Linked DNA regions of Homo sapiens. The protein of the gene in region 7 interacts with the protein of the main gene of each other region in a biochemical or structural test. Each region holds a gene or a part of one and is shown on either strand. Other genes may lie near its edges. The genes, in order: PDLIM1, GRIP2, DVL3, CARD11, SIPA1L2, MPP2 and ATRNL1.

The links.
Region 1: the proteins of ATRNL1 (region 7) and PDLIM1 interact in a test that uses a peptide from one of them, tested with the Homo sapiens proteins (one large-scale study listed by IntAct).
Region 2: the proteins of ATRNL1 (region 7) and GRIP2 interact in a test that uses a peptide from one of them, tested with the Homo sapiens proteins (one large-scale study listed by IntAct).
Region 3: the proteins of ATRNL1 (region 7) and DVL3 interact in a test that uses a peptide from one of them, tested with the Homo sapiens proteins (one large-scale study listed by IntAct).
Region 4: the proteins of ATRNL1 (region 7) and CARD11 interact in a test that uses a peptide from one of them, tested with the Homo sapiens proteins (one large-scale study listed by IntAct).
Region 5: the proteins of ATRNL1 (region 7) and SIPA1L2 interact in a test that uses a peptide from one of them, tested with the Homo sapiens proteins (one large-scale study listed by IntAct).
Region 6: the proteins of ATRNL1 (region 7) and MPP2 interact in a test that uses a peptide from one of them, tested with the Homo sapiens proteins (one large-scale study listed by IntAct).

Annotation. Positions count from the first base shown.
Region 1 is NC_000010.11:95,288,204-95,292,167, reverse strand, and holds the start of PDLIM1 (PDZ and LIM domain protein 1), read left to right. Parts: upstream 1-1,164; 5' UTR 1,165-1,252; coding exon 1,253-1,348; intron 1,349-3,964. UniProt on the Homo sapiens protein: Cytoskeletal protein that may act as an adapter that brings other proteins (like kinases) to the cytoskeleton. Involved in assembly, disassembly and directioning of stress fibers in fibroblasts.
Region 2 is NC_000003.12:14,509,343-14,512,842, forward strand, and holds part of GRIP2 (glutamate receptor-interacting protein 2), read right to left. Parts: coding exon 3,435-3,500; exon of another isoform or gene 3,097-3,434; coding exon of another isoform or gene 3,095-3,096; exon of another isoform or gene 2,351-3,094; intron 2,138-2,350; coding exon 2,071-2,137; intron 1,969-2,070; coding exon 1,823-1,968; intron 623-1,822; coding exon 478-622; intron 1-477.
Region 3 is NC_000003.12:184,165,377-184,168,876, reverse strand, and holds part of DVL3 (segment polarity protein dishevelled homolog DVL-3), read right to left. Parts: intron 3,456-3,500; coding exon 3,386-3,455; intron 2,752-3,385; coding exon 2,612-2,751; intron 2,432-2,611; coding exon 2,355-2,431; intron 2,272-2,354; coding exon 2,204-2,271; intron 2,052-2,203; coding exon 1,902-2,051; intron 1,298-1,901; coding exon 1,166-1,297; intron 980-1,165; coding exon 812-979; intron 1-811. UniProt on the Homo sapiens protein: Involved in the signal transduction pathway mediated by multiple Wnt genes.
Region 4 is NC_000007.14:2,935,868-2,939,367, reverse strand, and holds part of CARD11 (caspase recruitment domain-containing protein 11), read left to right. Parts: intron 1-536; coding exon 537-689; intron 690-1,335; coding exon 1,336-1,461; intron 1,462-2,133; coding exon 2,134-2,331; intron 2,332-3,500. UniProt on the Homo sapiens protein: Adapter protein that plays a key role in adaptive immune response by transducing the activation of NF-kappa-B downstream of T-cell receptor (TCR) and B-cell receptor (BCR) engagement.
Region 5 is NC_000001.11:232,397,465-232,400,299, forward strand, and holds the end of SIPA1L2 (signal-induced proliferation-associated 1-like protein 2), read right to left. Parts: intron 1,810-2,835; coding exon 1,663-1,809; 3' UTR 501-1,662; downstream 1-500.
Region 6 is NC_000017.11:43,904,737-43,908,787, forward strand, and holds the start of MPP2 (MAGUK p55 subfamily member 2), read right to left. Parts: upstream 2,801-4,051; 5' UTR 2,738-2,800; exon of another isoform or gene 2,477-2,737; intron 2,016-2,476; exon of another isoform or gene 1,948-2,015; coding exon of another isoform or gene 1,819-1,947; intron 1,416-1,818; exon of another isoform or gene 1,344-1,415; intron 1,245-1,343; exon of another isoform or gene 632-1,244; intron 1-631. UniProt on the Homo sapiens protein: Postsynaptic MAGUK scaffold protein that links CADM1 cell adhesion molecules to core components of the postsynaptic density. In CA1 pyramidal neurons, required for synaptic KCNN2-containing channel function and long-term potentiation expression.
Region 7 is NC_000010.11:115,096,365-115,099,864, reverse strand, and holds part of ATRNL1 (attractin-like protein 1 isoform 1 precursor), read right to left. Parts: intron 3,221-3,500; exon of another isoform or gene 3,026-3,220; intron 1-3,025. UniProt on the Homo sapiens protein: May play a role in melanocortin signaling pathways that regulate energy homeostasis.

The DNA.
Region 1 (3,964 bases), about 20 Mb from region 7:
GGGATTCCAGGCGTGAGCCACGTGTCCGGCCCCTAGAAAATGACAGAGAGTGGTGGGGATGTCTGGGAGAACAGCATTGCAGACAGGGCCCTGAGGCAAGGCCCTGAGTTAGGAGCAAGGAGCACAGCCTGGCAGACTGGGGGGCAGGTGAGGAAAGGGCAGGAGGAGTTGGGGTCAGAGAGGGAGTTGGGGCCATTCTAGGGGTGGCCTTGTAGGCATTGTAAGGATCTGGGTTTTCACTGGTGGTGAGGTGGGGACGCCATGGACAGCATGAGAAATGGTCTGGTCCGGCGTGGAGAATGCACTCCACCGGGAGGGCGTCAGGGGGAGCCTGGCTAGGAAGCTGGTGGGAGGCTGGGAATCCAGGTCCCGGACTCAGCTCTTCTTTTGCATTGACTTGGCCCTTGGCCCGCCCCAAACTTGAGGTTTGAACTGTTGAGGTCAGAACCTACCATGAACTCCAGCCTGGAGGAAAGATTTCTAGGAAGGCCTTGAAGTTCAGTTATAACCTGAGTGATGGTCTCATTAGCATTATAAAAGTTCCAGGATGGGGTTCTGCAGCACTGGGCCCGGGCAGTGGTCCAGATGCTGACGAGTGGTGTAGCGTCGGGCAAGTCTTCTCACCTACTGAGCAGACTCAGTTACTTCATCTGTAAAATGGGACTAAACGTCCCGGTTGCCTCAGCATCAAATGAGATCGTTCGAAAGCACCTTTTAAACATCATTACCGATTACAAAAAGCAAATGGGAAGTCGGAGCCGACCTCAGAGGGCTGACTTGGCACAGCACTTCAAATTTCTCGTTTTACAAAGCACGAGGCGCGAGTTTGTCTCGCTGTCAGGACCTGCTTCCCTCTCACCTAGCACCCGCCCCGGGCCCGAGAGCCGCGGTGCGGCCGTGCGTACAGGAGGGAGGGAGGCGGTGTGGGGTCCCGGGCAGAGCTGCTGAGAGCCCCGGCCCCGCATCTGACTCGCGCTCTCTCGGCGGGACTCCGGGCCAGGGCCCCCAGGCCGGCGCGCAGGGCGGGGAGCGGCTGCGGGCGGGAGGACGGGCGGGGCGGCGGGCGGCTACGCGGCCTGGGCGGAGCCGCCCCCGCCCTGGCCCTCGCGGTTGCCCTGCCCCCGCCAGCCCCAGGCTCCCCGGGCCCGCGCCGCGCCGCTCTTTCTCCGACAGCCGCCGGGGGTGCCCTGCAAGCTGTTCCGCGCGTCCTGCCCGTCTGTCCCCGCGGGTCGTCGCCCGCCACAGCCGCGCCATGACCACCCAGCAGATAGACCTCCAGGGCCCGGGGCCGTGGGGCTTCCGCCTCGTGGGCGGCAAGGACTTCGAGCAGCCTCTCGCCATTTCCCGGGTAAGAGCAGCTGGGACGTGCGTGGAAGCGGGGCGCTATGGGAGGTGATATGCGGAGACTGGGGCCCCGCGGGCGCGGTCGGGGACGGAGTCGGAACCGCAGCCGGGCGCGTCCAGGTGCGCTGTTAGTTGAGCGCTCTCCGCGCGCCCGGGCCCCGCCGCTCCCCGCCGCCCCTTCGCGGAGGCTGCGCTCCCGGGCTGGTCGGCCCGCCGCGGGCGCGCTCCGTGTCCGCCAGAAAAAAAGAAGGCAGTTTTCGTTCTTTGGCCCCGGAAGCGCGGCGGGGCGGGTGTTAGTTCTTTGTCAACCAGCGAGGGGACGAGGGTCCCCGCAGATCCCGCGCGCTGGGAGATGGCACTTCTCCCTTCTTCCCAGATCGCAGTGCAGCCGAACGCAACAGGAAAGACCTGGAAAGTGAGGTGGGGTGGGTGGGAAGTTTACTGGGGTGGGGGGCAAGTGGGATTAACCTAAAAAAACAACCGAAACACGCTCTTTGGACTTGACCCACGGCCGAGGCTCGCCCCTCGAATGGCTTTTGGAGAATGTGCTGGATTCGGGAAATAAACACAACAAACAAACTCAAGTAAACCCTCTTGGTCATTCTCCCCTCTGCAGAACGTGGCCCCGCCGTCATTCTTCCTAGCATTCCCAGATTATCTCTTTCCCCTCCCCGCACCAGCCCTTTTTTCTCAGGGCATGAGTAGATACTGCGATGGGGTGTCCACCTGGGGTGGGGTTGAGGTGCTTGAAATCTAAGAGGGGCTTCGGATCTTTAGAAGGACTCACGTTGAATCAGGGGCCACCAGAACCATTGCCCCCCTAATAAAGTGAAACCCCCAGGGAGACCCAGACTCAGTGTTCAGAGGTCTGGGCTTTGGCCATTTAATCTGGCCAAACACAGGTTGATGTCCCACTAAGAGATGTCACGTTCAGTGCTTGGGCACCAAGAAGAGACTCAGTAAGTACCTCGAATGAGGAAAGGGAGAAAAAGAAGTCCCCTTTCTCCCCACCCATGGCCACTCCTTGCCTGTAGGCGGCACATTCCATTCTTGGGCTCATCTGCCTGCTGAAGCTGCCCTTCAGCTTGTCTCCCAGACTTTCTAAACATCCTTCTTTTTCACTTGGGGTTGGGGGAAGGGTGGAGAAGAAAGGGAAATATCCTTATGGATCCTTTTGACTCAAGCTCCTGCGTCCAGCAGCTGAAGGAGTTTGGTGGGAGGTGCAGGAGAAGAATTGGTGGCCTCCTCTTGACTTGTCTGCCAGCCACAGTCCTACCCATGCTTCTTTCCCGGTTGGCCTGGCCCAGTGAGGAGGTCTTCTCTATCTCACCCCCCTAAAAGAGTAGGCGGGCCAGTTTTTGGGCCTTATCTTCCACCTGTTTGCCTCGTCCCACAGAGACCTCTGATTATTCTCAAAGGTACACACTGCCTTTCCAGCCACCAGCCTAATTCCTCAAGCGCAGGAACTGTGCCTTCCCCAGAATCGTCCCCGAGCCTGGTAGCAGACCTGTACCTGGCCGGGCTGGGTAAATCCTTGCAGGCTTATTAATAAATGCTTGTCCAGGGAGGACATTGTGTCTGCACATTTCAACTCGCTTACCTCATAGTCCATTTGTCCCTGTTCTTTGTGTCTATAATTAACCTGTCAGCCCTCTCCACTTCTGAGATTTATATATGACATGAAACCCTTTTTTAAGTAGTGGAGGATGTATTGGCAATCTGTTAAAAGGGCAGTTACTGCCTTTCACTTTAGCTGCTTTTAAAAGTCTTAATGCATGAGTGAATGATGGAATGGGGTGGAAAACACCACACTGTGAATTCATTGGTTTTTACCTTCATATATTCACTCATTTATTATTTATATTATTTATTTATGGCGTGTGCACGTGTTTAATGAGCACGTATCATATTCCAGAAACTGTGCAAACGCCTCAGAAATGAGAGGGCACAGCTCCATTCTCAAGGTGTTCATGGTCTAGTGATGGAAACTAATCTTTATAATGCCCTTGGCAGGTGCTTTAATTGAAAAGTGGAAGTGACTCAGAAGAGGTAACATTTTCATGCTGACAGTAATTTATTTGTTTCTCTTCAGCTCCTTATTAATACATGGAAAAATTGTGAGCCTGTTCACCTCATGGGAATGGGAAAGTCATTGTCATAAAGGGACCCTGGTGTGGCCATCTGAGATCTGGTGCTGGTCCAGTGTCTTCTTGCTTGAGCTGTACCTGGGGTGAATCTTCCACTGTCTGAGGCTACTTAAAAAAAAAAACCTCTGCAGTGGGGATAGCACCAGCCCTTGGCTGTGAGTTAAGGTATGTGAGAGTGCTCCGTAAATAGTGATAGTGAGGAAATGTGAGCACTGACAAAGAGCTGTACACACTTTCTGATTGGTAGGTATGCTACATTATTTATCATCCTGGGCAATTTGCTGGTATAGTTTTGTATATGATAGACTTTGAGTCTCCACACCAAAGCAAACCATAAAATTAGGCTGGGAGAGGAGTGCCTTTTATTTAAATAACCATGTTTGCTTTCTCTTGCATGAATTATTGTGGTATTGGCTCCAGTCTTTTGCTAAACTGCTAAAGCTTCTTAATATAATGCTAATCTTATGTACTTG
Region 2 (3,500 bases), on a different chromosome or scaffold from region 7:
ACCTCACCCTGGGACAGGGCTCCATTCTTACAGCTCCCTCAGCTGCCACAGTTTCAGAGTCTAGGGGCAGCAGGGACAGTCCCCCAATGCCTCAGGAAAGCCCTAGGCAGTGCTGGGACCAGGGTACTGGGGCACTGCCCCATCCTATTCCGCACACAGCAGGCGCTCCAAATAGCCTTGCAGGGCTGACCTTCCAGACACAGGTAGGAGCAGGAAGATGCACACACCTTGGCCCAGTGCTTACCTGGAGCCAGGAGGTCTGCTGGGGTGTGGGCCTCTGCCCTGGCAGGCAGGGGCTGACACTCATTTTACAAATGCAGACCTGAGTCTCAGAGAGGGGAAGTGACTGGCCCAATGTCACCCACAGTGTCAATGTTGGAACAGAGGTCAGAATCTTGCTTGGCTTTGCCATAGCCCCAGCTCTTGCTTCCTGTGTTCCCTGAGCCCACCATGCGTCCCCACAGAGCCCCAGTTCACCTCTCAGCCAGGCCACGCTTGGTGAGGCCTGAGATGACAATGGGGTCAAAAGGTTCCTCCGTGCCCGAAATGGTGATGCCCAGGGGACCCCCGTAGCGCTTCAGCTCCACTGTGTAACTGACGGCACCTGTGGTCTCCAGCTCATCTGCAAGCACGGGGACCCATGAGGAGGAGGCCCCCGAGGGGGTACCCAGCTTCCTAAAGCCTTGGCCTCACTCACTCACTCATACTTATTTATTAATTCATTCACCCAGTCACTCACGCTCTGATTTCATGTAGCACAACCTGGGGACCCTGAGGCCATCTTCTGCCCAAATACCAGTAAAGAAAAGAAACATCACACCTCACCCACAATAATGACAACATTGATGACAAGAAACAGTGGCCTCTTTTCCTCCAGCAGCCAGCAGGAAGCAAAGGGAACCCCGATCATCCGTTGTTTTTTTTTTTTTTTTTTTTTTGAGACAGAGTCTTGCTCTGCTGCCCAGGCTGGAGTGCAATGGCACGATCTCAGTTCACTGCCATACCTCTGCTTCCAGGGTTCAAGTGATCCTCCCACCTCAGCCTCCCAAGTATCTGGGACTACAGGCATGCACCACCAGACCCAGCTAATTTTTGTATTTTTTGTAGAGATGGGGTTTCGCCATGTTGCCCAGGCTGGTCTCGAACTCCTGGGCTTAAGTGCTCCACCCACCTTGGCCTCCCAAAGTGAGGGGTGTACAGGTATGAGCCATTGCACCTGGCCCAACTTTTCTTAAAAGAAAAGAAAAGAAAAGAAAAGAAATCTACCTCCCACAGTAACCTTCTTTCACAGAGTCGGAGTTGGTGATTTGGAGGCTGCCCCTTTGAATCAGGGATTCACTTTCCAGTTGGCGCAGTCCTCACCCGTCCCTTTTGCCTCTCCAATCCATACAGCTTTTCTCACTCATTTATATCACTATCTGGCGTCAGTGGGGCCTGAGTCTGCAGTCTTTGCTTATCCACTCATAGCCTGCCACTCAAAAGGGCAGCCTCGCTCTTCCCCTGCCCTACCCACTCATCTCTCCACCAGCTGCACCAGCTGCACCCAGTAGGTCTCCTCTGCCAGGCTTGGTGCTAGATGTGGAGACTACGGGAGAGTCTCAAACTCCTGTCCACCTCACAGAGGCTCTGGAGGGCCCCAGACGCCGGGGACAGTGAGAAATCTGTGGTGTTGCCCCCTCCTTCATTTGTTCATTCCAGCCAGCCTTCAGCAGCGCCCACCACCCTCCCTTCCTCGGCTGGAGGGAGCCCTGAATTGCAAGCTGGGAACCCGCTAGTCAAAGGGTGGGCCTCTGGAGGTAGGAGGCCAGCATGAGGGCCATACCAGAGTTGTCCTCGTCCTTCCGGATCTTCAGCTTCACCAGGTCCTCGCACTGCCGCAGGATTTGCACGGCGTCCTCCATGGGGCAGTTGTCCAGGCGGATATTGTCAATGGCCAGTAGCTTGTCGCCTGGCTCCAGGGTGCCCGTCCTGCATGAGTCGGGGGCAGAGGGGATGGAAGGAGCCTGGTGCATGCAGGTGCCATACTCACTGCTGTTGGCCACTTCCCTTCCTGTGCCCCAGTGCCCCTACCTGTGTGCCACGCTGCCTTTCTTGATGTCGGAGATGATCAAGGGCTCCCCTCGTTTCCTGCTGGCCGCTGGAGAAAAAGAGGCCATGAATCTGACCTTGGTGGCCTCAGCCTGGGGTGGGGTGGCGAAGCCCAGGGGTCTGAGTGTGGACTCGGAGCCACTGGTCCTACTCACATCCTGGTCCCACTGCTTCCTGGCTGGGTGACCGTGAGCAAATCAGCTCACCTCCCTGTGCATCAGTTTCCCCCCTGTAAAATGGGGGTGGCACCGCAGACCTCATGGGGATGTGGTGAGAGTAAACCAGATAACACAGGCACAAGATCCAGCATGGCCCTTCCAATGCCAGCTCTTCTTTCCTCCTGCTCAGCCCATCCCCCAGCAAACTGCGAGCTCTTTGTGGAGGGGGGCTGTCTGCTTGGTGTCTGTGTCCCCAGCACCGGGCTCAGGGCCAGCACCCAGGCTCTATTGTGTGCTTGGGGGTGGGAGACACAGAAGTGAACAAAACAGACAGCAATCTCTCCCTGCCCTCCTGGAGCTGGCACTCCAGTGGTGGTCACAATCAACAACATTTAAACACCGATGAAGTGAGCTGTGGAGAAACCTGAGAAACGGGCTTGTGTCGAGGGCGGTAAATGTTCAGTCAGGTGGTCGGGGAAGGCCTTGTCAAGTGACATTTGGGCAAAGCCATGAAGGAGGTAGGGAAGAGGCCAGAGGAACGGTCTCAGATGCAAAGGCCCAGAGGCAGGAAGGGGCAGGCATGGCAGGGAGCAGCCAGGCTGACTGCGGCTGGAGGGCTTGAGTTGGGGAGAGTCGGGAGATGAGGTCAGAGGTCATGGGGTCCAGAGCACAGAGGGCCTCACTGGGGCCCGAGGCCCTCAGCTTTTACTCAGAATAAGATGGGAGCCACGGGAGTGCTTTCACCTTTCCCATGCTCACCCATTCTACGTTTTTCTTCTGCATTCCTCATTTTCATTCCTTTGACAAACATGAATTAAGCACCTACTGTGTTCCAGGCCTTTGCTGGGCTCTGAGAACACAGAAGCAGGCAGAAAACCAAACCCAGCCTAAATATTTGTCACCTTCCAATGCTCTCTCACCATGGGCACCTCACAAGCCCCCTGGGAGACCCACGAGGCCAGGGGACTGCCATGGTGCAGAACGGGAAGCTGAAGCTTTGGGAAGCTGGGGTCTCGCTGAGAACACGCAGCTGGGTCCACGGAAGCCAGCCTCCCCACACCCCCAAGCCTTTTCCTCGGGCCCCGCAGGGTGTCACGCCATGGAAATGCTGGTCTGAGCTTGGCAAGCTCTTTTTCCCCAGCAGTTGAGCTCGCTCCCAGGGGCAAACAGCAGCGGGAGGAGACTCACAGCTGATGGTGATGCCCAGCTCCACGCTGCGCTTCTTGGGCAGCTTCACGTGGAAGGTGCCACTGC
Region 3 (3,500 bases), on a different chromosome or scaffold from region 7:
TACATTCCTTAATGGCAAGGCTACTCCCACCAATGTTGGAACTACATTGAAGAGAATATAAGGGGCCACCAGGACTGAATACCTGCCTGGGACACCCTCTGCTCACACACTATCGGTACCAGGTCCCAGAGCTCCAAGAGAGCTACAACTGCCCTTGAGGCCACCGGCCCTATTAAGATGAGACATTCCTCCCAGCCCTAAGAAGAGCCAGCCCCAGCCTTCCAAGAGAGAAGTCAGGAGACAGGGCTCTGAGGCTGCCTGTGGAGCCTGCAGCCAAGCCATCAACCTGTCAAGAGGCCAGCAGCCAGCATGGGGAGTGGTGGTGGAGGAAAGCAGTGGTCTGTCAGCTGTTGCCCAGAGCTGGTGATGACGTGAGCCTCCAGGCTGTTTGTTTTGAGGGAATGACTGTGTGCTCCTCGGGGCTACCTAGGCCTCCAGTTCTTCCCTTTAAGCCTACAACACCCTAGCTGAGACCTTGACGAGTGAGAAGGAAAAGGCCTATTCTGGCAGTATCCTCCTGAGCTGGGCCTCTGGGAGGTTGTGAATATTGAGTAAGATGATGCTTTAGGAACAACCAACATGGTACCAGGCAGAGCAGGCACTTAGAAAATGCCAGGCCCAAGAGGGAGATGTGGGCCAGGTGAAGAGGCTAAACTGGACTCTTCTTCCACCATAGAACTCTCAGGCCTTGAATTGGGCCCCTGGCTCTGCTGTCCCCCAGTTTGGGTTCCCCAGAGTCTGCTGCCACTTCCCTGGCTACCTCCCCACTCCCAGCCAGGAGACAGGGCAAGAAGATGAGGGAGGCACATACTGCCGCAGAGGTCACCGAAGATGTAGTAGCACTGCTCGGAGAAGGTGATCTTGTTGACGGTATGGCGGATGAAGCCAGCTTTCAGCAGGTTGCTGGCATACTTGCGGGCCTCCCTCCGGTCCGTGAAGCCTTCCACATTGTGGTACAGCCAGTCCACCACATCTGAGCCTGGGGACAAGGCTGCCAGTTGATGGGGAGGCCCATCTGACTTGGACTCATCTGGCCTCACAGAAGCTATGAGGCTGGGGCTGGCTCCAGATCAAAGGAAGGGTCCAAGGCAAGTCCTGGGCCCTCCGGCCTGCCCTGCCCCATCACTCCCCACCCACCCTGCATCCCACCATGGGGCTCTCTCACCGATGAAAGCATTAGGGATGGTAATCTTGAGCCACATGCGGTCACGGACCTCCAACCCTGATTCAGGGGAGGCCATGGCTTTTACGATGGCAGCCATGTCACTGTGGATGGACAAGTGGAAGTCGTCTAGGCCTGGGGGTGGGAGGCAGAATGGTGAGGCAGAAAGGGGCTTTGGAGTTAGGTAAACAAGAGTTTGCATTCTAGCTCTACCATCTAGTAATTATGGGATCAATGCTGGGAAAATTACTGATTTCTTGGACACTCAGTTTCCCCTTCTGTAAAAAATGGGGATTTTAATATCTACTTTACAAGGCTATTTGAATAAAGGATTAAATAATGTAAATGCAGGTGCTTGGCCAGTGTACGATGTGCATGTGATGATAATCGAAATGGCTGCCGTTTACTGAATGCTTACTTTACACCACACATCGCAATGGTGCTTCACTTATATCCTCTCATTAAACCCACAGGAACCTGGTAAAGTTTATATCGTGAGTCCCATTTTGTAAGAGGAAACTGAGGCGCCCTGGGTGCTCATACAAGTTCAGAAGCAAACACTGTTTAGTGAGGGTTGGAGTGCCCGCTGTGGGGGAGTTGCAGTGTGGGGTTGCTGGAATGAGCCGAGCCCCATCTCCAGCCCTCTCTGATGCTCAAGCAAGAGTCTCCACATGGACCCTCATCAGTCCCCCCACCTGGCCCTGTCTGCTGGGCCCAGGAGACAGGGTGGGACACTCACGCTCTGTGTCAGGGATGGAACTGGTGATGGAGGAGCTGGTGGAGGTGATGGTGCTCAGGGAGGGGCTCATGCCGTATGCAGGGAAGGTGCCGGTCATGGCTGCAGTGTGGGAGACCCAGGCCGCAGGGTCAATGGGCCGGATGGGCTCGCCTGCAGGGAGGATGAGGAGTCATGGGCTACCCACCCCACCCACTGCTGGGCCCAACAGGATAGATATGGGGGTTCTGGGTGAGAGAAGAAAGGAGAGACAGTGCTCATGTATGTAAGCACCAGCTTTAGGACTGAGTCTCCCATCCACTTACTCCTGGGCAATGTGAAGCAACCACGTGGACTTGGGTCCCAGCACTTGGCTACAGTCAGGGTGATGGGCCTGAAAACAAGGGTGTCCTAGTGAAGGCAGGATGCGTATAGGCCAGACCAAGCCCCTTGCCCAGTGCCCCATTCCATCCATACCCCGGTTTGTGCACAATCTCCCGCAGTACCCGGACTGCATCGTCATTACTCATGTTCTCAAAGTTGATCTCGTTTACCTGGGAAAGGACCAGGAGTGGGATAAACAGCTGTGCTGGGGAGGATGAAAAGGGAACTCAACTTGGTAGGTCAGGGAGTCTTCCCCCAACCAAGAAGGGGCCTCTGAAGGAGCAGGGTACAGATGGTAGGACACCTCCCTGCCCTCTATCCACACCACCGCCTAGGATGGGCACTGATACCTGTAACAACATATCTCCTGGCTCGATGCGTCCATCAGCAGCCACGGCCCCACCCTTCATGATAGAGCCAATGTAGATGCCGCCGTCACCACGCTCGTTGCTTTGGCCCACAATGGAGATGCCCAAGAAGTTATATTTTTCTATAGAGAGTAATTTAAGACCTTAAGGGGGAGCAAGGTTCCTACCCGCATTCCCAGCCCATTAGAAAATGGAAAGGGACAGGAACTGAACTGACATTTGCTGATCCTGAATCAGGCACTGCACTCAGCATGCTCAAACATGCTTCCATGGAACCCTTGCTGGCTATAAGGTAGGGACTCAGTCCCATTTTACAGAGCAGGCAACTGAGGTTCAGTGAACTTAGAAGATGACTTTTCTAAGCCAGTAAGTGGCAGAGCCAGGAATCAAACTCAGATTTAAATCCCATAGTTGGGCTCCTTTTACTATATCCAGCTGTCTCATAAAGAGAGTACCTAGGGCAGAAATCGGAGAGCAAGGATGCAATGGCTGAGAGATGTGAAGGAGTGGGCACTCAGAAATCACTTCCTCCAGGAAGCCTTCCCTGATACCATTTTCTGCTTCCACAGCTCTCTGTGCTTATCTCTGTCATAGCCCTGATGGTGAGATACTAAAATGATCAGTTTATGTATCAGCTGATGTTTACGAAAGAGAGCTCCTTGAGGGCAGGGAACATATTCTACGCTCTCTGAACTCAAGTCTGCCCAGTGTCTGGCATATAGCAGGTGCTTGAGAGTGCTGTTTCCTCAGACTCACCCATGTTGAGAGTGACCGTGATGATGTTGAGTGACATGGTGGAGTCCGTGATGCTGCTGAAGGACGAGGACTGGAATAGACAGAGGCCCTGAGCAGCAGGTGGAGGTGGCAGGAA
Region 4 (3,500 bases), on a different chromosome or scaffold from region 7:
TGCCTCCCCACACTTGTCATCGCCGAGTCACTTGTGGGCACAGAGGAGGAAGTTGCTGAGGAGTGACATCCCAAAACATATCTACAGGGCAAGAAAAAAAACATGCATCCTCCTGCTCCCTCCAGAACAGTCCCCCCAGGAGTGGCTGCCTGGTATATGAGGCTCTGTTTCAGAGCCGAGGATGAACCCAGCTTCTCCAGAACAGATTCCTTGATATTTCAGGGGCAGCATCTAAAAAGTGTTTCGGGTGCAGCAACTGCTTCTCTGCGCTCCGATAAGCGCCAGGGAGAACAAAAGGCCCAGGATACGCCCAAGCAAAAGCCAGTTTTCTGCTTCTTTCCAGGCAATAAACTTCTTAAATGCTAAGCTTCTTAGAGACCCCAGGGGACATACATCTCTTCTTGCCTCTACCTTCCAGGCACAAAACCTTCTGCTCTGTCCGTATCTGTTGCTGGTTCTTCTGTCCCCTGCCCTCCAGGACCACCTGGCTCCCCACCCCGACCCTGACCCTCTGAAACCTCCTCCCTCCCACCCAGGCCGGGAAGCGCAGCCTGCCAGACTCAGACAAGGCCATCCTGGACATCTTGGAACACGACCGCAAGGAGGCCCTGGAGGACAGGCAGGAGCTGGTCAACAGGATCTACAACCTGCAGGAGGAGGCCCGCCAGGCAGAGGAGCTGCGAGACAAGGTGGGAGTGGGGATCGCCCGCCCAGCGGTGCCCTCGGCCGGCCCCCTTCACACCAGGGGGCAGTGGTGTGTGTCAGCAGGACCTCCCTGACCCCACACTCCTTTCCAGGGACTAGATCAGACCCCTGGCATAAATCCCCTGTACCTCCCAGTATTCAGCCCCTGGCAGAAGCTGCAGTTTATCAACCAGATGAGGGCCTGGGGGTGGGAGCAATGTGGGCAGAGGGGAGGGTGAGGGCTTGGGATTGGGGGAACCCACATACCTGCCAAGGTGTGAGTCTCAGAGCCTCACCCACACCTTGCGGATTGCAGGATCCCAGATGTGCCGGCCACCCTTGGGCATGTACAAGCTATTGCACCAGCTTAGCACCTGTGTCCCCCTCCTGACTGAGATCACATTGTCCTCCCCTATGTTACCTGGTCTGTAGTGGGTTCACAACAATGCTGGGTTGATTGGTCTCCTACCTTGAGCCCCAACAGTCAGATAGTCGGTTCCCAGAAGGGCAGGCCATGTCCTGACCATGCCAGCTTAGGGAGGGACAGGCCAGCTCCAGCCAGCTGGCGGGAAGGCACGAGCAGAGAACAGCTTTCAGTCCTGACCTATTGATTGCTCGATGCGCATATTGATTTCTCTGTGTGGTTCACAGTACCTGGAGGAGAAGGAGGACCTGGAGCTCAAGTGCTCGACCCTGGGAAAGGACTGTGAAATGTACAAGCACCGCATGAACACGGTCATGCTGCAGCTGGAGGAGGTGGAGCGGGAGCGGGACCAGGTACAGGCACCACCTGCAGCGTGCAGGGCGGCGAGGCTGCACAGCGGGGCCCGCACCCCAGACCACCGGCTCCTTCAGAGTGTTTTGTCCAGTGCAACATCACTGACAATGCAGGGATCACTCCTGAATCCATCTTTCCCATTTCTGTTCCAAAGATGAATTCTAAAAGATGAATTCCAAAAGGCTTTTTTGGAAGTCACAGGCGTTTGGGTAGCAGGGGGATCCGAGCTGGGCTCCAGCAGCTCCCACGACCAAGCATGGTTCTTAAATGTTGTGTGTTCTCTCGGGTGAGAGGATGGGTTCAGATCCAGCCCTGTCATTCATAAGGTGTATGCCCATAGGCAAGCTGCCACCCCTGACCTCAGTGCCCTCATCTGTAAAATGGGGATAATTACGGTAGCACCGCCTCATAGGGACAGGCTGTGGCCTTCCAGGGACACTGCATCAAAGCTCTCAACACAGAGCCTGCCACTAGCAAGGGTCGGACCATCGGCTCTGTGATCGCGTTAATGAAGAAGGTAGTGACTGACACGCCCAGGGGTCAGACTGCAGACGAGAGCCACAGACGATGTGGCTGGCCCCTGGGTTGGGATGATGCCTGTCCCTGGGCCCAGCTGGATTTGGCTGGGGTGCAACCCCCAAAGCAGCCTTCGTCCCGCTTCTCCCTGGCAGGCCTTCCACTCCCGAGATGAAGCTCAGACACAGTACTCGCAGTGCTTAATCGAAAAGGACAAGTACAGGAAGCAGATCCGCGAGCTGGAGGAGAAGAACGACGAGATGAGGATCGAGATGGTGCGGCGGGAGGCCTGCATCGTCAACCTGGAGAGCAAGCTGCGGCGCCTCTCCAAGGACAGCAACAACCTGGACCAGGTGGGGCGGGACGGGCAGGACCCCACGCCTGAAGCCAGGTGGGCCCTGGTGCCCACTGAGGGCTGTGGCCAGTCCCCACCTCCCCGTGGAGACCCACACCTGAAGCCAGGTGCCCCCTGGCACCCACTGAGGGCTGTGACCAGTCGCCACCTCCCTGTGGGGCCCCAAACCAGAAGCCAGGTGCCCCCTGGCACCCACTGAGGGCTGTGACCAGTCGCCGCTTCCCTGTGCAATGAATGGCTCCTTGTCCTTTGTTTAGTTTTGTTTTGCTTTTGAGACAGGGTCTCACTCTGTCGCCCAGGCTGGAATGCAGTGGCACTATCACAGCTCACTGCAGCCTCAAACTCCTGGGCTCAAGCAGTCCTCCCACTTCAGCCTCCTGGGTAGCGGAACTAAAGGCACACACCACAATTCCTGACTAATTTTGTAATTTTTTTGTACAGACGAGGTCTCACTGTTTCCCAGGCTGGTCTTAAACTCCTATCCTCAAGCGATCCTCCCGCCTCAGCCTCCCAAAGAGCTGGAATTACAGCCGTTTGCCACTGTGCCCGGTTGGCTCTTCATATATTTGAAGCCGGAAGTTCCCTCCCACGCCCAGCATAATCCACATCTTTTACTGTTGTGTTTGTGTCTGTTTAGTGATGAGTGGAAGCCACTCATTTTGAAGTTAGAAGATGCAGGGTAGGGCTGGGCACAGTGGCTCATGCCTGTAATCTCAGCATTTTGGGAGGCTGAGGTGGGAGGATCGCTTTAGGGCAGGAGTTCAAGACCAGTCTGGGCAACAGAGCGAAAATTTTTAAAAATTTAAAAAATTAAAATTAAAAACATAAATAAGAAGATGCAGGGCGCCAGGTGCGAGGGTTCACGCCTGTAATCTCAGCACTTTGGGATGTCGAGGCAGGTGGATCACGAGGTCAGGAGTTCAAGACCAGCCTGACCAGCATGGTGAAACCCTGTCTCTACTAAAAATACAAAAAAATTAGCCAGGCGTGGTGGTGCGTGCCCATAGTCCCAGCTACTCGGGAGGCTGAGGCAGGAGAATCGCTTGAGCCCAGGAGGCGGAGGTTGCAGTGAGCCGAGATCACGCCACTGCACTCCAGCCTGGTGACAGAGCAAGACTCCATCTCAAAAAAAAAAAAGGCAAGCTTGACCTGGCCACTTCCTTGCTG
Region 5 (2,835 bases), on a different chromosome or scaffold from region 7:
CCCGAGTAGCTGGGATTACAGGCATGTGCCACCATGCCCGGCTAATTTTGTACTTTTAGTAGAGACAGGGTTTCTCCATGTTGGTCAGGCTGGTCTTGAACTCCTAACCTCAGGTGATCCACCCGCCTTGGCCTCTCAAAGTGCTGGCAACACCAAAGTGTTATTTTATTTTATTTTTTTAAAGGCAGTCTTGCGTAAATTACTTCACTTGACCCACAGTTCATGTGGTTGTAAATGGGAACCCCACCTCCTACCTATGAAGGATAGATACCATTGGGGTTAAATGAGATGGATGAAAAGTTCAGAGAATAGTGTCCGCCACACAGCAGCTATTAAAAACTGCTAGGTACTCCTTCCTGAAATCGATCTGGGATTCTATGAGAAAGGAGCTGAACAGTATTTAATACAAATCAAGGTTCTAAATGACCTGAAATAAATTCACATACAGTCAGACTGTTGACATGTTAGATCACAAAAAATCTAGTCACCTGACAACACCATTTCTTATGTGGACTTCTTTTAAACATTTATTAAAAAAGCAAAATGTATGTTCATCTCAAATCTAACAGTTAAAAATGGTAAAGCAATACAAACAATGTGTTACTAGCAGCATCCAGTCGTTAGAATCTCTCACCCTGCTTCTCGGTCTGATCTGTGCAAGCTCAGTCTCTTCTGAGCCTGCAGCTACCTCCATCCCTCATCGTAGTGCAGGCCAAACCAAATTTTATAAAATTAACAATTTAAGGTTAAATAAGCTTAAATAAGGGTGTTAAATACAAGACACTTCATCAAAGCTTCTGTACAAAGATAAACAAATCTGGCATTGTACAAGTGGTTCCGCTGGCTCACAGCACACAGGGAAGTTCTAGTGAGTAAGCAGATTCACTCTCATTTCTTTCCAGCAGAGCAACTATACAAAAGTGAACTAAGAGTTGAAGTGACTACTGACCACTCGGTGAGCCATTTACAAGGCATATGTATCTTTTTTTTGTTTTTAATCAGAACACTGTTAATATTCAGGCACCATTTGTTCCTGCAAATAAATAAGTCTCTAAGGTAACTGCATCTGAACTAGTGTTAAACACAACAGTGCTTTTTTTTTTTTTTAATCCCCCCACAAAGCTTTTCCAACTATGTACTATGCCTCCTTTCTTATTGCTATGGTAATGTGGCTGTGGAAATAAAACTACTGTACATCCAAAAAAATAGAGCACCTTTAACATTAAAGTATATGTCTGATTATTTGTTCTCATGTTTATTTTACAATACTAAAGCCCAAACTATGGTAAATTGCTTTACATCTCTACCAGGTCACCTGATATACAGGAAATAAAACTCAACTATCTTCCCTCTTGAGGTAAGCCCAAGCCAGAGCACTGTTTTAGCAGAGTCTAAAAGAAAAAGGTCTCAACTGTCGCCAGGGTTTACATTCATCTTCACACCAGGAGTTACATTCATTCATCTTCACATCGGCGCTGCTCTCTGCCGTGGTTACCGAGAAAGAGTCGAGGCTCCCTATCCTGCTGTGGTGAATGGTGCTACACAGAATGGAACAGCAAAAACATCTACGATTGGTTGAAAGCACACAGAAAAACCACATGTTTGTGACTTCAAAGGGACAAGGGGCATTTCCCAGTGGTCCCTTGATGAGGTGCGGATTGGCTAAGATTTTTTGTCGATGGTGGTGAAAAACCATTCTGTGAATTTCCGCAGCTGAGCTGTCGCGGTCTGGGACTCCTCCTGCAGTCTCATGTTGTCCTGTCTCAGGTGCTGCACTTCTGCTTGGAGAACGGCCTTGTCTTGTTTTTCCTGGTCAGAGCAGAAATAAACTGAGTCATGGAGACTGATCGATACATTCATTCCTCCTAAGCTGGGCTACGAGAATCTTTGATTCTTATTTTTACTTATGTACTTTTTGAGGGGAGAAGGGGTGACTTTCTTTAGTGAGGGGACTTTTCTGATCCTGATTCCTGCTGATGACAAAGGGATGGGAATGAACACTCCACACACCCTGTTCTTTCATCCCACTCTGCTCCCATGGGGTGCTAAGATAGCCTTTATATAGGAAGGGTGTTCATCATAGTTTATATTACCCTCTATCCAAAAAAGGGAGACTACAGGGAGGTTAAAGGTAATACCCTTTTGACAAATGCACAAAACTTTCTAAGTAGAAAATTGGAATTAGCAGAGCTGTTACATATGTTTATAATAAAATATGTACTTAGGTCTTTCATTCCATCAAGCTTTCCTGCTATACTATATTTCCATAATGACCCTTAAAATCTGCTATTAAAAACTGTGTAAAAATAATCAAGACTTTCAGAAGAATCACATCTGGAGTTTCCAACATGTAGCAATAAAAAAATGTATAGCAGCAGTTTCAGTTCCCCCCCTGCTGAAAGGGATGCCTTGCCCTAAATGAATAGAGGGGTCACTGTCAGATTGTAATAATCGGTATTTCTGTAACGGGATCTAACTCAACCACTACAGCCACCACATGCCACCCCCAGCACTGTGCAGGAGCATTGAGTGAGGTGAGTGGACGCCCCCACCCTTGGCATATCTGGTCCTGCCCTCAAGGCTTCCTCGTTTCCTGAGCCCTTCCAAGGCCCTCCTCAATACCACCTGCCTGGTCACTGGCCCAAAAGACACTGGTCCTCAGAGGAGGCCTGAATCAGAGCTGACCACTCACTTTGCTGTAAGGAGCAACTGCAGCCCACCCTGGATAGACTCACTTCACTCTAAGAAGCAGCTGCAGCCCACCCTGGATACTGACTCTCCCCGGACATTCCTCACCACGACTCTCAGTCCCAAGACAGTCTGAGTCCCACAGCT
Region 6 (4,051 bases), on a different chromosome or scaffold from region 7:
AGTTCACAAAGCTAATAAGGAGAGCTAAAATGAAAATCCAGGTTTTATGACTCAAAAATAAGTATATAAATAAAGTGTTTCTTCCTGTTGTATTTTTTGTTTGTTTGTTTTTTGAAGAGGAAACAAGTAGAATTTTTAGAGGGTAAGACTATAATTTGGCTGAGCAAGGTGGCTCACGCCTATAATCCCAGCACTTTAGGAGGCTGAGGCAGGAGAATCACCTGAGCCCAGGAGTTTGAGACCCACCTGGGCAACATGGCGAGACCCCCATCTCTACAAAAAAATTAAAAATTATCCAGGTGTGGTGGTGCATGCCTATGATCCCAGCTACTTGTGGGGCTGAGGCAGGGGGATCTCTTGAGCCCAGGAGGTCGAGGCTACGGTAAGCCATGATTGCGCCACTGCACTCCAGCCTGGGCAACAGAGCAAGAACCTGTCTTAAAAAAAAAAAGTCATTTAAAAAATAATAAAAGAGTCCAGAATTTGAGCCAAAGTAGAAAACATGAGTACTCCTAGACTGCAGGTTCCCTGAGAGTCAGAACCACATTGATTTTATTTGCTTCTGGAACCTAGGCCTACCAAAGCGCCGATGTTCCACATTTATCTGGGGGGCTGACAGAGTGATATCTACCTCTCCACGGCCCCTCTGGCTGGCTCTCTCTCCTCTCTCCCTTTCTTAGCTCAGAGCTGGCACAAGGAGACCAAGTGCTCTGGGCAGAACCAAGCATGGAGTCTACAGCCCCAGTTTCCATTCCAGGGCCTCCCCAGGCTAGGAGTGGCTCCCTCGTTCTCCCAGGAGAGGGCAGGGGGTTACCCCCCACCCTTCTTCCCTTTGCCTTCCTGGGCATGTGCTGCTGGATAAAACCCTAATTCCCAGTTGCCATGACAACAGGAGGCAGTGGCTCACAGCAGGGGTGGGGAGTGGGGGGAAGCATCTGGCAGTGCCCACTTTAGGACTGAATGCCTGCTGAGTCCTGGGGGTGGGGGAACCACGGCAACTCCACCTCCCCCCAAAAGAGGATTCTTCCCAGAGGACTAGTACCTGATTTCAATAAAACCCTCTCTGCTCCCATTCCCTTCTCAGGCCTGAGCTGGTCACCTGAGCTCAGGTGACAGAAATTACAAAAGTGAGGGGGATGGTTCCCTTTCCTCCCAGCTCTGCCGCTGAGGACATGGAATAAAGGTGCTTTCAGGGAGAGGAAGGGCACCCCTATTCAGGCTACACCCAGGCTGGAAGAAATGCCCAGGATCCACTGTGCTGGCCCGTGCCCCTGGTGCCAATCTCTACTCCTAGAGAGCAGGGAGGAGGGATCCCTTCCCTCCCCCTCCCAGGCCTTGATGACCTGGAGCCTTCTCCTGGCTGGCGCTGCTCTCCCTCACAGGGTCAGAGAAGGGACTCCAGAAGTCCTCCTTCCCTAGAGCGTGGAGGGCGGGAAAAGGCAGGGAGGATCCTGTATGAAATCCCTGCGCTCGGAAGTCTTGCCCAGCCTGCCTGGGTTTTCTCCCGGGGAATCGGTTCCCAGAGCATCGGCTGGCTTTGCTCCCCCACGCCCGTCCAAGCCTCTGAGAGGGCGGGGCCTGGCTGTGTCCACAGGAGAACGGCAGTGCCAGGCAAGCTAGCCTGGCTCCGTGCCAAGGTCCTGCACCCAGACATCTGGGAACCTGCACCTCGGCTTCCAAAAGCCTGGGCCCAGATGCCCTCTCAGCTCTGCCTCCGAGATATCCACATCACCCATAGTGTCCGCAGGCGAGCGGACCAGCAGTGAAAGGGAGAGGTTTCTTCCAACCTCCCACCCATCCCTCCATCCATACACATACAAAGAGGTGCGGAGAAGAAAGGTCTGACAAAGGCGCTTTGGAGAGCGAGAGGTCGCGGGGAGGTCTGGACAGAACTGAGGGCCAGAGGATGGGGTCGAAAGGCCAGGCGGACGTGCATGCTTGGACCATCAGATCACCCCTGCCCCAACGGACCCAGCCCTAACACCCTGGGCGCTAGGACCTGGGGGAGGGGGGCGTGTTGTGAGCCATCAAAGAAGGCTCTCTACGTGCGCGCCCGCCGGAGACCAGGGATGAGGTCACTAAATGACTGCCCCGGCCAACCCCCACCCCGTCTTTATCCGCACCGCCCCCCCCTTAATTGACCTAACTTTCTAACCCTAGCTCTTCGCTTCTGGCACCGGTCCCCTCCCAAGTCTCCAGACCCTAACCCTGGCTCCCGACCCGCCCCGCTACAGCTTGGGAAGCGGGAGAAGCAGCGCGCGCCCTTCTGCGGACCCCCTCCCAGGGAAGATTGTGGTGTTAGCTGCCTAGGGGGACCAGGGGGCCACCGGGACCCAGCGCAACCTCTGTCTCGCTCCCCAACCCCCGGAAGCGCTAACAGCACGGTTCTTACGTAATGCCGGGCTTCTAAGTACCCCCAACCCGCACAGCCCCCGGGGAGGCCGCGCAGATACCGGGGCCCCTCACAGCTCACCACCTTGGTGCCTGAAGCCACTTTGGAGCCCCTACCGCAGGGGCGGGGACCAGTGTCAATGGGCAGCGGGGCTTGGTTCTCCCAACCAGCACCCCAGAAAGAGGGCCCAGGGGCGGGGGCGGGTGGACAGGGAGGGAACGGGCCTGGGTGAAAGGGGCCTGTGGAGTTTAAACCCAGTGAATAGGGTCCTAAGTGCCGTGTCAGGACGAAAAGAAGGCGGAGGTCTTGGGATAGGAGCTGGCCCGGGGGCCGGGGGACGCCTACCTGCGCCCCGGGAAGCCCCTAGCTCCGGGCGGCTCCAGCGCAGCCGGGCGCTCAGCGTTTATTGCTTGTCAATCGCTAGCCCGGCTCTTAAAGCGGCAAGGCCTCTCCGCGAGGGGGCGGAGGTCCGGAGGAGAGGGGAGGTGAGGAGAACGCGGAGGCCGGCACAACTCGGAGGAAGTAGTCTTTCCCAGCAGCTGGTACGGGGGCAGCCAGGTAGTGGTTTGGGAGACACCGCACAGACCACGACGCCCTGCTGGAGTCCCACTGGGAAGGGTTAGGGAGGCAGGACTGGTACCAGTACCCGCTGGTGCCCCTCGGCTCCCAAGGATCCCTTAAAGGGGCGATGGTAAAAGTGCCTAATGAGACCGGCTTGATTACTCCGCCCACCCATCTTGGCTTAGACCGGCGTTCTAGTTCCAGGCGTGCCTCACTTTTCCTCGTTATCCTGCTTCCATATTGAGAAAAAGAATAGGAGGACTTCAGAGAGACTCCCAGGAAGCAGGATACCAGCCCCAGAAGGCCTCGGGATCAGGGGCAGCTTTTTAAGGACTCAGAGGGTGGATATCCGGATTCCAGACTTTCCAGAAATTTTGCAAAAAAGAGGAAATGTCTTCCTGAAAGGATTCGAGAGCCTCTTTTAGGTCTAGGTGAGGGAGGCCTGGTCCATTTTCCTGCCTATGGAATAAAGAAGTAACTGGCTAGCCTTCCTCAGAGTCCCAGCCCAAAAAGTAAATAAAGGGTTAAACCCACTGGCCCGCCTTCGCCCAGCCTCCGGCTCCACCCCACATCTGCTAGTAAAAGATGCTGGGCCTCCAAATACGGGAGGCTCTGTGCAGTGCGACTAGCATTTGGGGCCAGCTACGCTACTTCTCCGACCTCGGCGTTCAGCCACCCCGTCCAGTTGCCCTGAACAAAATGTGAGAGTCATCCCTTTTCCTTGCTAACTGGATTCCTAAGATCATAAATGGACTGCATCTTTGGCCGGGCGCGGTGGCTCACTCCCATAATCCCAACACTTTGGGAGTCGGAGGCGGGAGCATCGGTTGAGCCTAGGAGTTCGAGACTAGCCCAAGCAACATAGTGAAACCCCATCGCTACAAAAAATAAAATAAACAAAATTAGCTGGGCGTGGTAGCGCGCGCCTGTAGTCCCAGCTACTTGGGAAGCTGAGGCTGCAGTGAGCCGAGATTGCAACACCGCACTCCAGCCTGGGCAACAGAGTGAGACCCTGTCTCAAAAGAAACAAAAAGAAAAGAAATGGATTACATTCTGGAAACTTGCTTGGAAATCTCAGAAATGGGAATCTATCCCGAA
Region 7 (3,500 bases):
GACTGGTAGAAAATATATGCAAATGATATACCTCATAAGAAGCTAGTAATCCAGAAAATGTAAAGAACTCACAAAAATCAGTAAGAAAATTTTTTTAACATGCAAAAGGTTTGAATAAATGCCTATTACAGAAGATATACGGATGGCAAGTAAGCACATGAGAAGATACTCAATATCATTAGTAATTCGGGAAATGCAAACTAAAACCCAATAATATACCATTCACTTATTAGAATCACAAAAATTTAAAAGACTAACCATACCAAGTATTGGTATGGATGTGAAATTAACTAGATAGAACACTGACTCACTGCTGGTGGGAACATAAATGATACAACTACTTTGGAAAACAGTTTGTCGGTTTCTTTAACAGTTACACATATATCTACCCATATGATCCAGCCATTCTCAGGTTATTTCCCCAAGAGAAAGGAAAGCATATGACCATACAAAGATAAAAAGGCTTCCACATGAAACTTCGTAGCAGCTTTATAAGGAACAGCCAAAAATTTGAAACAATCCAAATGTCCATCAGCAGTTGAATGGATAAACAAATTATGGTGTATCCAGACACTGGAACACTATTCGGCAGTAGAATAAACTACTAACACACCATGAATGAATCTCAAAATAAACACGCTGTGTGAAAGAAGCCAGACAAAAAAGAAGTATATAATGTATGATTCTATTTACAAAAAGTTCTAGAAAATACCAACAAATCTATAGTGAGAGAAAGCAGATCAATAGTTGCCCTGGGACAGGAATTGGCAACTAGAAAAGGGAGGGTTTACAAAGGAAACACATGGAAACTTTCTAGCGTGATTGGTATTTTTATGATTTTGATTGTGGTGACAGTTTCAGATGCAAATACATATGACAAAACTTATCAAATTGTATAATTTAAATAAATTGTACATTTTAAATTGTGCTGTTTGACAATTATACCTCAATCTCTTAAAAATTTTGTTTAAATAACTATCAAAATTATAATTAAACACCTCATTTTTGACAATACTAAGAAGGAAAAATAGTGCTATTAGGGCAGTATATAAGGGGTAACCTAGTGTGAAGAGTCAGACAAGCCTCCTTTAGAAACTAGTATTTAAGTGGCCAGGCGCAGTGGCTCACGCCTGTAATCCCAGCACTTTAGGAGGCCGAGGCGGGTGGATCACGAGGTCAGGAGATCGAGACCATCCTGGCTAACACGGTGATACCCCGTCTCTACTAAACAAAAAATTAGCCGGGCGTAGTGGCGGGCGCCTGTAGTCCCAGCTACTCGGGAGGCTGAAGCAGGAGAATGGCGTGAACCCAGGAAGCGGAGCTTGCAGTGAGCCGAGATTGCGCCACTGCACTCCAGCCTGGGTGACAGAGCCAGACTCGGTCTCAAAAAAAAAAAAAAAAAAAAAAAAAAGAAACTAGTATTTAAGCTAAGATTAGAAGGATGATCAGTAATCACCCAAGCAAAGACCAGAGAGGAAAGAGTTCACAGTTACGTGTATAAAATGCACTAAGGCCAAAAGGAATGTGACACTTTCAAGGAACTTCAAAAGGCCAGTCAGGGCAGAGGAAAGGAGGCCTGAGTCTAATCAGCTAAAGGGGCCAAATCATGCAGACACGTGTTCTTGAAAACCATGCTACTATGCTTCTACAAGTAACTTACCTTATCAATTTAGAATCTAAGAAACACTCAATTTAAATTATTTTAAATTCCTACTGTGTGATTATACACTTTAATAATGTAAAAATAATCCATGGATATAAATTATCCATTAAAATAAAACTTTGAAATAAAGAAGTCTTAGGGACAGGGAACATTCAGTTTAAGTTTATAATTACTGTCAGTTTCCTTACAAGTAAAAAGGATTCCAAATATATATGTATTTACATATGCATATATATATATTTGTTTTTTGTTGTTGTTGTTTATTTTTGTTTTGTTTTGAGACGGAGTCTCGCTCTGTTGCCCAGGCTGGAGTGCAGTTGCGCGACCTATGCTCACTGCAACCTCCGCCTCCTGGGTTCAAGCGATTCTCCTGCCTCAGCCTCCTGAGTAACTGGGACTACAGGTGCGTGCCATCACACCCAGCTAATTTTTGTATTTTTAGTAGAGACGGGGTTTCACTGTGTTAGCTAGGATGGTCTCGATCTCCTGACCTCATGATCCGCCCGCCTCGGTCTCCCAAAGAGTTGGGATTACAGGCGTGAGACACCAAGCCAGGCAATATGCATATATTTTTAACAGCTTAGGGGAAGAGTTTACACACTTTATTCTGCCCGTTTTTGTCTATAATAACAACCTAATTCCTGACATTATATCATTACATCTTCATTTTGCTGTCACTACAAATAGAATGCTTCATATATGTATATATAAATTTTTAAGAAGAGTCTCGCTCTGATACCCAAGCTGGAGCGCAGTGGCGTGATTACAGCTCACTGCAGCCTCAACCTCCTGAGCTCAAGGAATTCTTCCGCCTCACTCTCTCTTGTAGCTGTGACCACAGGTGTGTGCCACCATGCCCAGCTACTTTTAAAATATTTTTTGTAGAGATGAGGTCTCACTATCTTGCCCAGACTGGTCTCAAACTTCTGGGCTCAAGGGATCCTTCCACCTCGGCCTCCCAAAGTGCTGGGATTACAGGCCTGAGCCACGGCACCCAGCATACTTCCATTTTAAATGCGTGAAATGAAGTATCCAAATTTGACTAACCTAAGAGGGGTAAAAATATACCCCTTTATATTTGACTAATATAAAGAGCAATACTCTTTATATTTATATAAATTTATATAAATCTCTACTCTACAAAATTAATTCTCAAGGGCTCCCTTCTAAAAGAGAACGTCATTCAAATAGATTATAGCAGAATATTTTCTTGCTTAACATTACACTGAACTATTCAAATAAATACAACTTGAATTAGAGTCTGTATCTTTGATTATTATATTTCAAATATATTTTCCTATTCTCAATCCCAAGTCCTTTAGTCTAGCTTTGGGTGAAAAATCAATGTTCCTTTTGTTTTACCTGTGTAAGGAAGGAATGGCTTGTTATTCTGAGTGCTTTATTCTTTTCAAATGGAAACAGAAGACTGGAATCAATGCTAAGAGAACTGAAGTACCACTTTTGATACTATATTTGCTTCTGCATTTCTTCCCCCAACTATCAATCTTCTATCCTCAAGAAACATTTGAAGAACATTTTTATTCCCTGGCGAAATCCCTATAGTAGAAAAAAAGCTAAGTTACCATGGAGCCAACCAATTAATTTTGACACCTGCTTACCAAGATTGATCAATCATTTTTAATGTCTGTTTGTAAGGTTGCTATCCTTCAGTTTAGAAAAAGATTTTCAAGATAGTTAGTGAAGTGAGATTTTCTAGTTAAAGCCTTTCCCACTGTGTTATTACTTCAAATGCCAGGTAAAACAAGCTACTATCTTCAAATAAACCTTTCATAGGTTTATTTGCATGTACTTTACCAAGAAGAATTCTTTTCTACTA